2 separate regions of the Homo sapiens genome follow, and region 1 is linked to region 2. A link means that fine-mapping ties the variant in region 2 to the expression of a gene that starts in the linked region. Tissue or cell type: whole blood. Region 2 holds a variant in brackets; the other region holds the start of a gene. All regions are shown on one strand. Distances are between the middles of the regions.

Region 1 (8,281 bases), 24 kb after region 2:
GGATATAAGAAGCCAATGCAGCTTGGAGGAGAAGGATTCCTGTAAATCACTCACTATGATTTCCCACAGCAGGCAAGTGGATCCCCTAAAGAAAGAAGGCTTATAGAGTTCCCTCAAAAGAGCTCAGAACTTCAACAATGATTCTATTCACATAGGCATTTCTGTCTTCCAAATTTTAGCTTTAAGAGTCTGAGGAAGTACATGTTTTTATTTAGAAAACAAAAAAATCCCAATTTGTAACACTTGGACTGGCTGCATTTCCAATCAGGCAAGCAGATGAGGGGCCATGCTGAACTTAAACTGCAATTGAGGACTGTTATAAATTTGGGAGAACAAGGAAGAATTCCAGGACCGGCTCCTCCCAGCTGCAAAATACACCCAACCTGGTGATACTGACACCTAAAGAGAAAAGAGACAGACTGCCGTCAAGGGCTGTCTCCCTTGCTCTTTTCCTAATTTGTCTCCTCTGCCCACGACCAGGGAGTAACTGATCTTCAAGCACAGAGCCCAAGATACTGAACTATAAGTGAAATGTTTTGCAAGACCTGTGCTGAATCAACAGGTCTCTTGGACCACGTAAGACTGCCTGGACAAGGAAGAACCATCAATGGTTAGAGACCCAGCACAAACCACATGCTAAGCAGCAGGCATTTCCTCTTCATTAGCTCATTAAGCTCAGAAAGAAATCTCTTTGTGAAGGAGTTTGCTAAAAACCTTAAAACAAAAAAGTTTTCTGTCTCCAGCCAGCAGCCAGCCTTGGAGAAACACCTTTACAGGCAAAGCCTAAAACACATCTTTCTCCAAAGCCAACATGTTTTATGCCTTCACCAGTGTTGTCTTGAATATGTATTTGGTTGCTACTTTGGTTCCAGACATCTCTGGCTGGTAGTAGGTAGTTTAATGAATGGATGTTGACGGACAGGTACATATCCCAGCTTGTGGCCTGCGGCGATGTTAGTTAGGCAAGCATGCTGGCTGCTTTTCAAGGTTGTACATTTAATAATAAATATAACTGGCTTCCCTTTCAGATGCAATGCTTGGTGCTAGCAATTACCACAAAATGAGTGAATTGATCAATATAAAGTGCTATTTTCTCTGGAAGCTTCTCTAACCAACTCTCGATTGCCTTTCCATCTATGTGACTTAACTTGTTGACAATCTTGTCAAACACCTGTGATTGCACCATTTTAAAAATACATTAATATTAATTTGAACAGTGGAAATTATGTTCCTCTAAACATTAGCCCCTAAAATAGAACTTCAATTCCAGTTGCAAATAAAGATTCAGATTTTTCTTTTTAAAGACAATCAGGAACCCAGTACCTAGCAAGTAATTGTGTCAAAAACTTTAGTGTTTTGTTTTGTTTTTTTTTAATTTGGGCAGAGAGATCTGTGTCTAAAAACCGACAGAAGGAACTTTCCCTGCAGCTAGTTCTTGCTTCTTCTACTGGACTTCTCTAAAAGCCACATCCTTCTACAGAATCCGTCTACACAGAACAATATTTGAACCAATTCTTGGGTCTCCTGTTGGATGTCTTCCCATGGTTTGCCCAGGACACTCTAGTGGGTGTGAAGATGTCATATTATACTGGACTGTGAAGCGAGAAGGTGATATTTAAGCCACTAAAGCTTGTGGCAGCCACCAAATTTTCCAATGCCTTCTGCAATCTTGCATTTAACTGGCTTCACCGCCATTCCCACCCCCACCCAGTGGGAAAGGCTTTAGGAGCATTTGGTCAGGTGGGGGTGCTGTCAGGGTTTACGGTTCACCTTCAAGGAAGCCCTGGGTGCGCTGACTCCGGGGTGGGGGGCACCTGGCAAGGTAGCGGGGACCCCCGTAGGCCCGGAGAAGCTGGGGCAGCCTTTGCCACGTGGACAGCAACCGCGCTGCTGCAAGTTCCCGGGCGTGCCCGTCGAAAGCGGCCAGGAGGTCAACTGGGGCGGCTTCCCTCAGTGCCTTGGGCAGGGGACCCACCTCGGCAGCCGCCCCACCAGGGCCCAGGACGCAGTGGAAGAGCGTATGGCGTCGCAGCAGGCAGTCCCTAAGGAACTGCACCAACTCCTCCAAACACCTTCCCAGGTGCTCCTCGTCCCAGCCTTGCCCAGGGGCCCCCTTGCGCAGCAGCACTGCCAGCAGCACTGTCTTGAGCACATATGAGGATAGGATGCGTCCCCACTGGGTGGCGGCCGCTGAGTCCAGCCCACGGGCCCCCAGATCGCGCAGAGCCTTAAGCAACTGCAGGCACTTGAGGTAGCAGGCACCTGGAGCTGCCCGTTCCTGCAGCCAACTCAGCAGCTTCTGCTCCTGGCGTGCTGTGTTCACACCCCACAGTGCCTCCGCACGCAGGCCCTCAGGGAGCTCCAACAGGGGCGCGCTGGGCAAGGGTGGCGGTGGTGGCGCCACAAGGAAGACCCCATCTCCCAGATGGACAGCGGGGATGAGACGCACAGCCATAGAAAGGCGGCAGCAGCCGTAGTCAGTGCGGCAGGGCAAGATGTGTAAGGTGGGGGGCTGTTCCAGGCCACCTGGGGTCAAGGTGACCCGACAGCGCCCCTCCAGGCTGTAACGCACAGTGGCCAAGGAGCGCTGCAGATGCGACTGGAACCAGCGCAGCACCAGAGTAGCAGAGAGGTGACGCCGCCCGCGCACATCCACGCAGAAGGCATCAGCAAAGGGTTTGCAGTCCCGAAGCCAGTGGCCCCCCGAGGCCCCCGATGGTGAGGGTGGTGCCTTGAGGGCGCACAAGAAGCAGCCGCGGAAGGCCGGGGCCAGCGCTGGCTCCTCGCCCAGGCTCCGTGGCTCCAGCGCCACAAGCGGCGGGAGGCGCAGTGGCACCAGCACGTCGAAGCTGTCGGGCCGGCGGATTTTATGTTGCTCGTAGGCGCTGCCCACCTGGATGAAGTCTCCGCGGAAGGCCAAGGCCAGCGCTCCCCCAGGAATGAGACCGGGGGACCCCCGGGCGCGGCCAGCCCGCACCAGCTCGCCCACGATCCGGCTCACGTGCGCCTTGCTGTGGCCCAACACGTGCGGAGACAGGCGCACCTCATGCTCGTAGTAACTCTCCAGCAGGATGCTGAGGCCCGGCTCTCGGAAGTGTCTCGAGGAGAAGGCGGCGTGACCCTCCAGACGGGGAGACCCGGGCAGGAAGCGCTGCCGGACAGCGTGGCGACAGCGCAGGAGGACATAGCTGAGGAGGAGCAGGACGGCCACCTTAAGCAACGGGAAGCCGCCATCCACGCCGTCGGCGGGCTCGGCCCGGGCGCCCCCGCTTCCCCGCAGGACATGGTAGAGGCACACCAGGGCGGTGCACAGGCCGGTCACCAGGGGCCAGAAGACGCGTAGATTGAGGGTGTAGTGCACCGACATGCCGGGCGCCCGGGGCGGCGGTGGCCGAGCAGCCCAGGGGGCAAGCCCCGGCGGCGACCCAAGCCCAGCATGCGCACAGCGCCCGGGCAGCCCCGCTGTCCCCGTCTCCTCCTCCGCGGCGGCTTCCCGAACGCAGGCCCGAGGGAGGCCGCCCTCCAGCTCGGCCTCCTCTCCCAGCTCAAGTGTTCCTTCCAGCTGCGGCCCGCCCTGCGCTCTCGGGCCCCGGGCCGCGCCCTGCCCCGGCTGCGCGCTGAGTCCGGCCCAGCGGCCCTCCCCGCCCGGCGCCCCCGCGCGCCGCCGTCGGCCAGCTTCTGGCCCGGCCTGGCTCGCCTCCTACCCTGGGCGGCCCTCCTGGCTCTCCCGCCGCTCCTCTCCGCGCCTGACCCTGTTACTCGGACCCCGGGAGTTTCCTCTTCCGAGGGGGAGGCGAGGCCGCGCCAGCTAGCGGGGAGGAAATGCCGGAGTCTGGAGCCGAGCGTGGAGCTGGCGAGCCGGGTCGGCCCCCTCCCGGGCCTCCGCCTTAAAGCGACGCGGGGCGGCGGGAGGGACTTCAGGACGCTCTTGGAACTGGCCTCCCGCGGCCCACCCCCATCCTCCCTCCCCGAAGGCAGAATTGGGAAGGCCCTGATTCCGGGGCGGTAGCTTCGTCCAGGGAGCCTCTGGAGTTGCGCTCCCTTGAAGTTATACTGGGACGTTGAAAAGGAGAAAAGGGCGCACAGCCAGACTGTCCAGTCCTCCCCACCCCCACCGCACAAGCTGCGGTGGCGTGGCAGGCCCTGGCACAGGAGTGGCCCTTGCCGTCTGCCGCAGTCGTCTGTTCAAACCAGTATTCACCGAGCACCTACCATGTGCCAGGTCGGAGCCACAGTGCTGGGGAAATCATAGTTGACAAGATGGACAAGGTTTCTGTCCTTCGTGAAGCTTACAGCCTTGTAAAAATGGGAATCAAAAAAGGAAGGGGCTGGGCGCAGTGTCTCACGCCTGTAATCCCAGCACTTTGAGAGGCCGAAGTGGGCGGATCATTTAAGGTCAGTAGTTCGAGACTAGCCTGGCCAACATGGTGAGACCCCCCCCCCCGCCCCCCATCTCTACTAAAAATACAAAAATTAGCCAGGCGTAGTGGCACGCGCCTGTAATCCCAGCTGTTCGGGAGGTTCAGGCAGGAGAATCGCTTGAATCCGGGAGGCGGAGGCTGCCGTGAGCCGAGATCGCGCCACTGTACTCCAGCCTGGGTGACAGAGTGAGACTCCGTCTCAAAAAAAAAAAAAAAAAAAAAAAAAGTGGGGGGAAGGATTCCACAGCAAGAAAACGCTCTAAAATAAACAAAAGTGCCCGAGGGAGTGAGAAGGTGCTGGCTACCCTGTGGAAACCAGAGGATGACAGGGGTGACATTTGGCCTGAGACTTCATCGGAACATGCTGGTTCACCCCTGTAATCCCAGCACTTTGGGAAGCCGAGGCGGCGAGAAGATCGCTTGAGTGAGGCCAGGAATTCGAGGCTGCAGTGAGCTATGATAGCATCATTGCACTCCAGCCTGAGTGACAGAGCAAGACTCTTGTCTCTGAAAAAATAAAATAAATAAAATGAAATGAAATTAAAATAAAATTATTTTCCCAGTGGAGGAAAGGGGCACAAACAGGTTCAGCTCAGGCAGGTTCAGCTGCCCCCCTTCCCCCCTCCCCCACAAGGTTACACAGCCTTTGTAGAGCTGGGCAGAAACCAAGGGGTGGAACTCCCAGGAGGGGGCCCAGGGAAGGTCTCTTCCTCATCTGCTGGGAATTTTGGGGGTCCTTTGTCTGGGTCTACATTGGAACCTCAGTCCTAGGAAGCTTGTTTTGTTTCATAACAGGGAGCACTTCCTGAAATAATCTGATCTATTTAAATAATTGTCTTTCTTTATTCACACTCATTACACCTTCTTTGCTGGCACTGACCTTTAAAGAGAGCAAGGGTGAATATATTAAAACATGTTAGAACCCAGCTGCCACCTGGGAACCAGGACTCAAAAGATGGCTTCTGGGTTGTTCCCAGTAAATCCTAAATTGGGCCCCTGAGAGCTAAGCAGATCTGCCTTCAGATCCCATCTACTAATATTAGCTATGAGATCATCATCTACCAGTCAAGATTCTTAGGTTTGCAAGTGACAGAAACACAGCTCCAACTGGCTTAAGTGCACGCACGCATAGACACACACACACACACACATTATTGTATCATGTTAACTGAGATCCATGAGGGGATTTCAGGTACAGCTGAATCTAGGTGCCTCAATGCTATGCAGACCTGTTCTCCCTTCACTTCTTAGCTCTCTGCTTTTTAAGTGGGCTGTCCTCCCCACAGGTCCTCCATATGCCCTTGGCTGCTGTAGTCTCACATTGTCTTCAGTGCAGAAGAAAAGAGAGCCTTTCCTGTTTTTGTTTGTTTGTTTGTTTGTTGTTTGTTTGTTTTAAAGACAGAGTCTCACTCTGTTGCCCAGGCTGGAGTGCAGTGGCACGATCTCAGCTCACTGCAACCTCCACCTCCTGGGTTCAAGTGATTCTCATGCCTCAGCCTCCTGAGTAGCTGGGATTACAGGCATGCGCCACCACGCCTGGCTAATTTTTGTATTTTTAGTAGAGATGGGGTTTCACCATGTTGTCCAGGCTGGTCTTGAACTCCTGACCTCAGGTGATCTGCCCACCTCAGCCTCCCAAAGTGCTGGGATTACAGGCGTGAGCCACCGCGCCTGGCCAGAGAGGCTTGCTTTTCTCAAAGTTGTGGTAAATGCCATGACTTGGGATAGTTTTGGGTCATATGCTAAAGTCACCAAGCAAGGGAATGCACTGATTAGCATTGCCCAGGTAGTGCCCCCACCAACTCCAATCCAAATCTATGTTGAAACCTTAACGGCCAATGTGACTGTATTTGGAGATAGGGCTTTTCGGCAGTAATTTAGGTTAAATGAGGTCAGAAAGATAGGGTCCTAATCTGATAGGATTGGTGACCTTATAAGAGGAAGAAAGAGAGACGGCTCTCTCTCCATGTGGTTGGACCAAAGAAAGACCATCTGCAAGCCTGGAGAAAAGCCCTCACCAGAAGCGGAATGCTACCAGACCTTGATTTTGGACTTTCTAACCTCCAGAGCTATGAGAAAATAAATTTCTGTTGTTGGAGCCACCCAATCTATGGTATTTGTAGAGGCAGCCTGAGCTGACTAATACAGTTGGGTACCCAGCCCTGGAACCAAGAGGTGGAGTCAGCCCTGTTCAAACTGTGGGAACTGTGGGAAGGGGTGTCTCTCCCCCAAGGAAAGTCATGTTGCTGCGGCTGGAAAAAGATGGATGAGATGTTTTGACATGCAGAGATGACAGCTGGCCACCTCTTTTGGATAACTCTCTTAACCTATCTTTGCTTCTATCTCCCGATCTATAAAATGGAGTGCTACCAACAGAGTGGTTTATTTTTCCCCTGGCAGATATAGTGGTATGCTATCTCCAACTATACAAATAATGGCAATGCTCTAGGTCAGAGTTAGCAAACACTATTTTTTTTTTTTTTAAAGAAATAGGTCTTGCTCTGTTGCCTAGCCTGGAGCACAGTAGCACAATCACAGCTCACTGCAGCCTTGAGTTTCTGGGTTCAAGGGATCCTCCTGCCTCAGCCTTCCAAGTAGTTGGAATTACAGGCATGCACCACCACACCTAGCTAATTTTTAAATTTTTTGTAGACATGGGGTCTCACTATGTTGCCCAGGCTGGTCTTGAACTCCTGGCCTCAAGCGATCCTCCTGCCTTGGCTTCCCAAAGTGCTGGGATTACAGGCATGAGCCACCGTGCCTGGCCTGGCTCACACTTTTTGTAAAGGGCCACAGAGTAAATATTTTAGGCTTGGGTGTCATAAAATCTCTACTATAACTACTCAGGTCCACTGCTGTAGCCCCAAATAGCTGGGTTTGGGGCTGTTGCTTGGCAAACTTCGGCTTGCATTAGGTTGGTGCAAAAATAATTGCGGTTTTTGCCATGACTTTTGTTACTAATAGCTGCATTCCTCTACCTCTGTCTTTTTTTTTTTTTTTTTTTTTTTTTTTTTGAGACGTAGTTTTGCTCATGTTGCCCAGGCTGGAGTGCAATGGCATGATCTCGGCTCACCGCAAGCTCCGCCTCCCAAGTTCAAGCGATTCTCCTGCCTCAGCTTCCCGAGTAGCTGGGATTACAGGCATGTGCCACCACGCCCAGCTAATGTTGTATTTTTAGTAGAGATGGGGTTTCTCCAGGTTAGTCAGGCCAGTCTTGAACTCACGACCACAGGTGATCCACCCGCCTCGGCCTCCCGAAGTGCTGGGATTACAGAAGTAAGCCACTGGACCCAGCTACCTCTGTCTTTATTTGGCCTTCTTCCCTGTGCATATTTCTAGGTCTTTGTATCCAAATCTTCCCCTCCTTTTTCATATAAGGACACTATTCATTGAATTTAGGGCCCACCCTAATCCATCTTAACTTGATGACCTCTACAAAGACCCAAATAAGGTCACCTGCACATGTCCAGGAGTTAGGATTTGAACTTACCTTTTAGGGAGACACAATCAACCCACTACAGCAGCTAGAGATGATCTGTCAGTGAGTGGATAGGGCTGTTCCCATCAAATTTATTTATGGATGCTGAAATTTGAATTTTGTAAGATTTTCGTGTGCCATGAAATACACTTCTTTTGATTTTTTTCAACCGTTTAAAAATATAAAAACCTGCTGGGCACAACGGTTCATGCCTGTAATCCCAGCACTTTGGGAGGCCAAGGCAGGAGGATTGCTTGAGCCCAGGAGTTCAAGACCAGCCTAGGCAACACAGTGAGACCCTGTCTCTAGAAAAAAACAAAACAAAACAAAAAAACTAGCTGGGTGTGTTGGTGCACACCTGTAGTCCCAGCTACTCAGGAAG
Region 2 (8,330 bases):
TGTAGGGTTGTCAGAAAAAAAAAATACAGCAGTCCCTAGGCCAAGGAAAAACTACAGCAATCCCTAGGCCAAGCCTGGAATAGACACAGAAGTTGCAAGCATGAGTATGATGTGGGCGCTGGTATCTAGCATCTCCCAGTCCAGTATGAGTCTCCAGGTATATCCCAGCCCCCGGCGTAGTGCCTGGCACTAAGCCACAGCACCATTACTGTTTGTTGCTTGAATGAGTGGGTGCACGACTTCATTCATTCAAGGTACACTTAATTAATTACCTACTGTGAGCAAGACCTTGTTCTAGACACTACAGATGCAAACACTGTACGTTAATTACAGTGAACAAAACAGACAGACACTCCCTGCCCTCATTATAATTATCTACCAGTGTTGGGGCAGGGGAAATGAAAACACAAAAAAGTGGCTGGGTGTGGTGGCTCACGCCTGTAATCCCAGCACTTTGGGAGGCTGAGGCAGGCGGATCACCTGAGGTCAGGAGTTGAGACCAGGCTCTCCAACTTGGCAAAACCCTGTCTCTACTAAAAAATACAAAAATCAGCTGGGCGTGGTGGCAGGCGCCTGTAGTCCCAGCTATTCAGGATGCTGGGGCAGGAGAATCACTTGAACCCAGGAGGCAGAGCTTGCGGTGAGCCAAGATCGCACCACTGCACTCCAGCCTGGGTGACAGAGCAAAACTCTGTCTCCAAAAAAAAAAAAATATATATATATATATATGTGTATATATATATGTGTGTGGGTATATATATGTATATATATAAGCAAATATATGGGTATTCAGATAGTGATCAGTACTACGAGAAAAATGAAGCAGATGAGGAAATTTGGGAGTATGAAACAAGGTGGGCAGTGTGATTGCAATTTTAAAGAAGGTGTCAGGGAAGCCTCGCTGGGTGACAGTTCAGCCAAGATCTTCAGGAAGTGAGATGTGTATAAAAGTATATCCGAAGGAATAAGAAGTGTCCTGGCAGCCGTAAGTAAATATCACAGCCTGGGTGCCTTACCCAGAAGACACTTATTTCTCATAGCTCTGGAGGCTGGAAGTCTGAGATCAAGGTGTCGGCAGGTTTGGTTTCTCCTGAGGTCTCTCTCTGGGGCTTGCAGGTGGCCACCGTCCCGCTGTGTCCTCACATGGTCGTCCCTTGCTCCTGTACTGTCTGAGTCCTAGTCTATTCTTATGAGGACACCAGTCATATTGGATTAGGGCCCAACCATGTGACCTCATTTTACATTAATTACCTCTTAAATGTTCTATCTCCAAATACAGTCACAATTCTGAGACATTGGGGTTTAAAATATCAACATAGAAATTTTAGGGAATGTAATTCAGTCCATAACAGTGAATGAATGAATGAATGAATGAATGAACCAGTCTGCTGCTTTGCTTATGTGTGAGAGAGTGAAGGCAGTCAGAGAAACATGGGACAAAAGGAACAGGGGATGAGGGGCAAAAAGCCACATCAGGAGAAAAAAACAGAGATTTGACATGTGCAGTTTTTCAATTCCCTCTTGGCCAATTCAAAATATGTTTTTCCCAGCTCTAACTCTTAATTATTTCCGGAAACGGTTTCATTAACTGCTGTCCTGCAGCAGGATGCTATGAAGAAATCTCTGAACTTAGAGGCAGAAGATGTGAGTTCTGCTCTGCTGGGTGACTTTGGGGGAAGTCACTAACCTCTCTGGGCCTCCTTTCAATGGGAATGGAAATCCCTACCCCCTCTCAGAACTGCAGGAGAAGTTCAGGGAGGTAACTGGCAGGCAGATGAGGGCTTTGTAAACAGGGAAATGTAATATAAATAAAAACCTAAGGTATTGCTGTGAAGCTTGCTGTGAAAACCACTGCAGACAGCTCATGCCTGGGGCCCTCTGGTCATTTCGAAGGGAGCTTATTTATTAAACTCCAGCTTTTCCCTGGTTGTTTTCTTCAGCCCTTCAGGATGATCAGAGAGCTGGGGGAGTGCAGGGCTGGGGAGAAGAAAGAAGAAAGGAGAAGAAAGAGAAATAGATTCCACCTGAAGCACAGAGCTGGTGATTTTTGCCTCATCGAGGATTCTTGCTGATATTGACCAGCAAGATGTTGACATTGATGGGAGCTGACATTGATGGGCACCCTCCTCATTAGGCTCTGTGCTAAATCCTCCCCAGGCATCAACTCACCGAATTCCCATAACACCCTCTGAGGTTAGGCTATAATCTACCCATTTTGCAGGTGAATAAACTGAGGTTCAGAGGCATTAAGAAATTGCCCAGGGTCAATTAAGAGGCAGAACTGAGCCCAGATCTGTCAGCTACTCTCTTAACCTTGACCTACACTTCCTCATCATTCCTCAAAGTGTCCTGGCATTTAGTAGGTACTAAAGACATGTAAGATCTCTAAATTCTCTAGTTTGAATCCCAGCTTTGGCGTTTTCCAGCTGTGTGAAGTTGGACAAGTTATTTTCTTTCTCAGAGGACAAAAATCCCTGCCCTGCCTACCTGTCAACTCCAGTACTTGCCAAGTATGAGTTGGAGGCTGTTACTTAACCTCTCTGAACCTCGATTCCTGTAGCAGTAACGTGGGATAATAACAGTTGATATTCCAAGGGTAAAGCACACAGCCTAGTGCCAGGCACATAGAAAGCGGTCAACCAGGCAGCTATCAATTCAGTACAGGGGTGACAACATGGCACCTATATTCCATCCAGGGTAAGTAAGAAGAGCAGAGATGAAAACATAGACCGGAAGGATAAATTTTAAATGTTCACATCTGCTGATTTCAGAACTTAAGATCAAGAAAATAATTATCTCAGCTAAAGATGTGCAGTTTTCCTTTGACAAGAAAACAAGATATTGGGTGATGCATTGCGTTTTCCTTATTGCTTTGCCAGAAAGCTCAGAGCTAAATCTAATTCTTATTAAGAGTAACTGCATGAATCTGGGTTTAGCCTTCCTTTATATGATATGTATTTTTAAATTTCTGTTCTATTGACTTTACTGTTCCTGTAACATTTAGAGTTAACTTTAGAGAAATTGTTAAATCTAGCTGCTTGAAAAACAGGCGAGGTTAAAAATGATCAATACATATTATGTGGTTATAGTTTAATGCATTTGAAATCAAAGTATTACCCATTACTTGAATTTTAGACAAAGATAAAAGGCACAGAGGCAGGTCCAGATCTATAAATTTAGGTTAAAATATTGTTTTAAAGAAAAAAATAGAAGGCAACTAGATGCCAGAGATTAATTTCAAAGTGGAATTAGTTCACATGAAGCATTTAGAGGAAAAAAAAATTGCAACATCTTCCCCAGAGCTGCCCAGTCCTGTTTGCAGGCAGGGAGTCCCCTTGGCCCCAACCAGGCTGACACTTAGCTTTTTTGAGTCCCAGCTCTCAGAGGAACAGAGGCCTCCTCCATTTTCCCATGCCGGGAGGGATTTCCTGTTTATCTTTCCAGATCGTGTGTCCACATGCACGAGATGTGAAGCC[G/T]GGGCAGAAGCCAAGATGATGAGAGCTATTTCTGCAAGCAAGTTCAATATTAAACATGCAGGGAATGAAGGAAGTTTACATGTAAATCAAATTTAGTCGTGTCCCATTGTCTGGGGTCTCCAGAAAATGGGGTGTGTGTGTGTGTGTGTGTGTGTGCACACACACGTGCATACACTTATATCCAAATATGATATTCTTTTTCTTTTTTTTTTTTTTTGAGATGGAGTCTCACTCTGTGGCCCAGGCTAGAGTGCCATGGCACAATCTTGGCTCACCACAACCTCCGCCTCCCGGGTTCAAACGATTCTTCTGCCTCAGCCTCCCAAGTAGCTGGGATTACAGGCAAATGCCACCATGCCCAGCAAATTTTTGTGCTTTTAGTAGAGATGGGGGTTCACCATGTTGGCCAGGCTGGTCTCAAACTCCTGACCTCAAGTGATCTGCCTGCCTCGGCCTCCCAAAGTGCTAGGATACAGGCCTGAGCCACTGCGCCTGGCTGATATTCTTTCCAAATACTGTAGACCATGGGTGTTCAATCTTTTGGCTTCCCTGGGCCACACTGGAAGAAGAATTGTCTTGGGCCACACATAAAATACACAAATACTAATGAAAGCTGATGAGCTAAAAATAAATAAATAAATATATCTCATAATGTTTTAAGAAAGTTTACAAATTTGTGTTGGGCCACATTCAAAACCATCCTGGGCTGCATGCAGCCCACAGGCTGTGGGTTGGACAAGCCTGCTATAGACTGTTACAAGGATTCTCATTTTGGCACTGGTGTAATGGCCAAAAGACTGGAAACAATATAAAATTAATGGATGGGAACTGGTAAAATGATACACCCACATGATGGGAAAGAATGCAGGTATTCACAAAGAAAGAGGACACAGCCACTTTGGAAAATAGTTTGCAGTATTTAAAAGCTGAACAAAGGCCGTGGTTTCTCCAGTACTCTTAGAACAAACCCCTAAGTCCCTCACACAGTGTATAACAGGATTTCCCAAGCTAGGCACTACTGACACTTGGGGGCCAGATTATTTTTGTAGTGGGGGCTGTCCTGAGTGGGGGGTGGAGGACGTTTTGAAGCCTCCACCCACAAGATGCCAGTAGCACTTCCCTCTGCAAGTCGGGGCAACCAAAAATGTCTCCAGGCATTGCCAAAATGTCACTACATGCAACAACATCCATAAATCTCATAAACTAGTTCTTAGCCAAAGAAGCTAGACACACATACGCCAAGAGTACATATTTATAAATCCGTTGTGGTTGAGGGAGGGGAGGGACCAGCAGGGGGGTTCTGGAATAGAGGTAACATTCTGGTTTTGGATTTCAGTACTGATTACTCAAGTGTTTTTCACACTGTAAAAGTTCATCCTGCTATGCAATTTTCTATAATTATGATTCAATAAAATGGTTTTTAAAATGAGGCATATTGAGGTGGCTAGATATGGAAAGATCTCCAATACGTATACGTGGTGAAAAAAAAAAAAGCAAGTTGATTGCATACTGTAATTCCGTTTGTGTTTGTAAGGGATGTATCAGAGCACCCGAGAAGCACACACCGCTTGCTGATGTGAGTCCACGTTTTTAATCACTGCCAAGCGCGCCAGCCCTCATGAATAAATGCAGAAGTTGTCCAGACCCTACGACTCAGCACGTCTGGTCACCAGGGATATGTCCTAGAGAAGCTCCTGCCTGTTGCCCAAGGGCACATGTGCAGGAAGGCTCATTGCAGTGTTGCTGGAATATCAACTGAGGCTCAGAGAGGTTAAGTGACTTGCTAAAGATCACACAGCTTATGAGTAGGAAAGCCAGCAGCTGAGCCCAGGTTTATTTAAACCCAGAGCTTGAGCTCCTAACCACCATACTGTATGACTGCTACCTCCACTCCCTGCTGTACACTGGCTGGGTGGGGTGGTACAGACAGGAACAACTTGGCTAGCAGGCTCGAATGGCATCCAAAGATCATTCCATCCATACTTCACTTAACTAATGAAAAGTTTGTGGGTATGGCATGGGCCTCCTCCTCAGTTCTCGGGGCACACTGGAGCACCCCAAGCCCTTTCTTCTACCATTCCTTACTCTTGTCAACCCTTGGGTCCCTCTCCTGCCCCCCACCCAAGGTCTCACTTCACTGCAGTCAGAGTTCACATCTGGATGGGGAAAGGGAGCTTTCCGTCTTCAGGGTAGAAAGAGGGAGGAGTGAGTCTTTTCAGTGACCTCCAGAACCAAACTGCACAGACTGATTAGCTTACACCCCTCAAGAAGTGGACCCTGAAACAGGAGCTGGGGTGTGAGTAGTTTATTTGCACAGTGATTCAGGAAACACCAGGAGGGAGGGGACAGTGAGAGACAGGGATGGGAACGGGAAGGCAGCCAAGGAAGGGTGTGTCCCCAGGCATGTTCCTACGGAGGGGGCTGGGGGGCAGGTGGCAACTGAGGTTCAGCTCTGCTGGGGCCAGGGCAAAGCATGCATCCCAGAGCTGTCCCATGGAAAGGGAAGGGAGCTGGGCGATTATCCACCAGTCCCATCCATGGTTGGTTGAGCGCTGCTCCCTGCGGCTCAAACACTCCAGCAATGTCTGCCTTGTCCTACATGTGGGTGGAATGTCCTGTCACAAACAGATAAGAACTCCCGGGCCTGAGCTGCAGGTGTTCATAGGAGGCCACCTTCAGAGTGAGGACGTGAGTGCAGTATGGATCCACAGGCTGCAGGGGAGGCACCTCTGCCATCATCTTTGTCTGTCTCTTTGCCAGCCTTGAATTATACCACAGGTTGCTCTCCTTTGATTGCCGCCTTGGAAAAATGACGGCACAAAGGAAAAGAAACCCACCCTCCCATATACTGTGGGTTAACCTGAAATCCCCCCAAACTCCACCGTGGGCCCGGCAGCCCCCTCCCTCAGCCCCAGCACAGTGGGAGACTAACGGTGGCAGCAAGCTCAGGCTTGTACCCAGAGCCCTTGCAGGAGGAAGCCAAGGGTGCCTCTTGCCTTTGGGAAGGGAGAAGCTGTGAGTTGATTGAAGTGATCAAAGGCACCTCCATCCTTTACAGATGCAACGAGCTGCTAACACTTTCCAAGAGGGATTAAATAAATGAACATCGGAAACTCTGTCCCTGGGCGGAAAAGAAAAGTCATCCGCAGGCATGAACACACTCTAGAAACTCTTGCTAGCATCTGAGCTGTTCCCCTGCTTTCTCTCCTTCTGATTTTGGATCAACCACCAAAAAAGGCAAATTCCTTTCCATACTGGTAATGATGGTGATAATGATAATAACAGTAACAATGATAGCAGTGGCCCTCACTCCTGAGACTTGTAAATATCACTTTGCATCTAGCAACTCATCTCATCTTCGCAAAAGCCTAACAAGGAGGCCGAGCGTGGTGGTCTATGCCTGTAATCCCAGCACTTTGGGAGGCCCAGGCAGGCAGATCACTTGAGGTCAGGAGTTTGAGACCAGCCTGGCCAACGTGGTGAAACCCCGTCTCTACTAAAAATACAAAAATTAGCCAGGTGTGGTCGTGCGTGCCTGTAATCCCAGCTACTCGGGAGGCTGAGGTAGGAGGATCACTTGAGCCTGGGAGGTGGGGGTTGCAGTGAGCCGAGACTGTGCCACTGCACTCCAGCCTGGGTGACAGAGTGACACTCTGTCTCAAAAAAAGAAAAAAATGCCTAACAAGGAGACTCTAAAATTAGCCCTATTTTGTCAGTGAGGAAATTGAGGCTCAGAGAAAATGAGTCAGGGGTCACAAACTCAAATGCCTACAGGGGCAGGCAGACAAGATAAACCAGCAAGTCAGGTGGATATCACATATAGATTGTGATTCATGAGGACTATGTGAACTGGAGATGGAGCAGACAGCCCCTCCTGAGCCCCTGCCTCGCCACTGCCACATGGGAACATGGGCACAGTGTGACCGATCTTATTTTTCAAGTAAAGACAGAAAATTGGATTTGAATGTGATATTTTCCCAGTTTTATAAGCAGCTGAAATCAGTTAGAATTAGGATTAGGTCCCTCTCCTTATAACAAAATAACAGGGCTAAGTAAGATAAAAGTTTCTTTCACACACCAAAAAGAAGTTGGAGACTGGGCGTGGTGGCTCACATCTGTAATCCCAGCACTTTGGGAGGCCGAGGCAGGTGGATCATTTGAGGTCAGGAGTTCGAGACCAGCTTGGCCAACATGGTGAAACTCTGTCTCCACTAAAAATATAAAAATTAGCTGGGCATGGTGGTGGGCACCTGCAATCCCAGCTACTCAAGAGGCTGAGGCAAGAGAATTGCTTGAACCCAGGAGGCGGAGGTTGCAGTGAGCTGAGATCGCACCACTGTACTCCAGTCCGGGCAACAGAACAAGACTCCATCTCAAAAAAATAAAAATAAATAATAAAAAGTTGGAGTCTGGGCACTGTGGCTCACACCTGTAATCCCAGCCCTTTGGGAGGCCAAAGATGGGAGATCATTTGAGGCTAGTTGTTCAAGACCAGCCTGGGCAACATAGTGAGACACTATCTCTACAAAAAATTTTTAAAAATTAGCTGAGTATGGTGCTGTGTGCCTGTGGTCCCAACCACTTTTGAGGCTGAGGTAGGAGGATTGCTTGAGCCCAGCAGTTTGAGACTGCGGCAAGCTATGATGGTGCTGCATTTTAACTTAATCACCTATTGAAAACCCTTACTTCCAAATATGATTACATTCTAAGGTGCTGGGGCTTAGGACTTCAATATACGAATGGCAGGGAGGGGACACAATTAAGCCCATAACACTGTCCATCTCCCCAATTCACCCAAAACTTCCTTAAGGGTGGGATTTATGTCTGGTCCAAGAAACTAGTGTGTTTTTTTAT

The links.
Region 1: ITPRIPL2 starts here. The variant in region 2 is fine-mapped to the expression of ITPRIPL2 in whole blood (TOPMed, PIP above 0.99).

Annotation. Positions count from the first base shown.
Region 1 is chr16:19,109,548-19,117,828 of GRCh38, reverse strand. ITPRIPL2 (ITPRIP like 2) reads right to left here and starts at 3,865. Exons shown (of 1, transcript NM_001034841.4): 1 at 1-3,865. The coding sequence starts at 3,367. The coding sequence ends at 1,760. RefSeq lists silencers at 3,304-3,673, 3,764-3,863.
Region 2 is chr16:19,133,821-19,142,150 of GRCh38, reverse strand. LOC124903657 (a long non-coding RNA gene) reads right to left here. Exons shown (of 2, transcript XR_007065011.1): 2 at 5,767-6,597. Among named protein-coding and RNA genes, the nearest start is that of ITPRIPL2, 24 kb to the right of the region's middle. The variant G/T (reference allele first, on the strand shown) is at 3,477.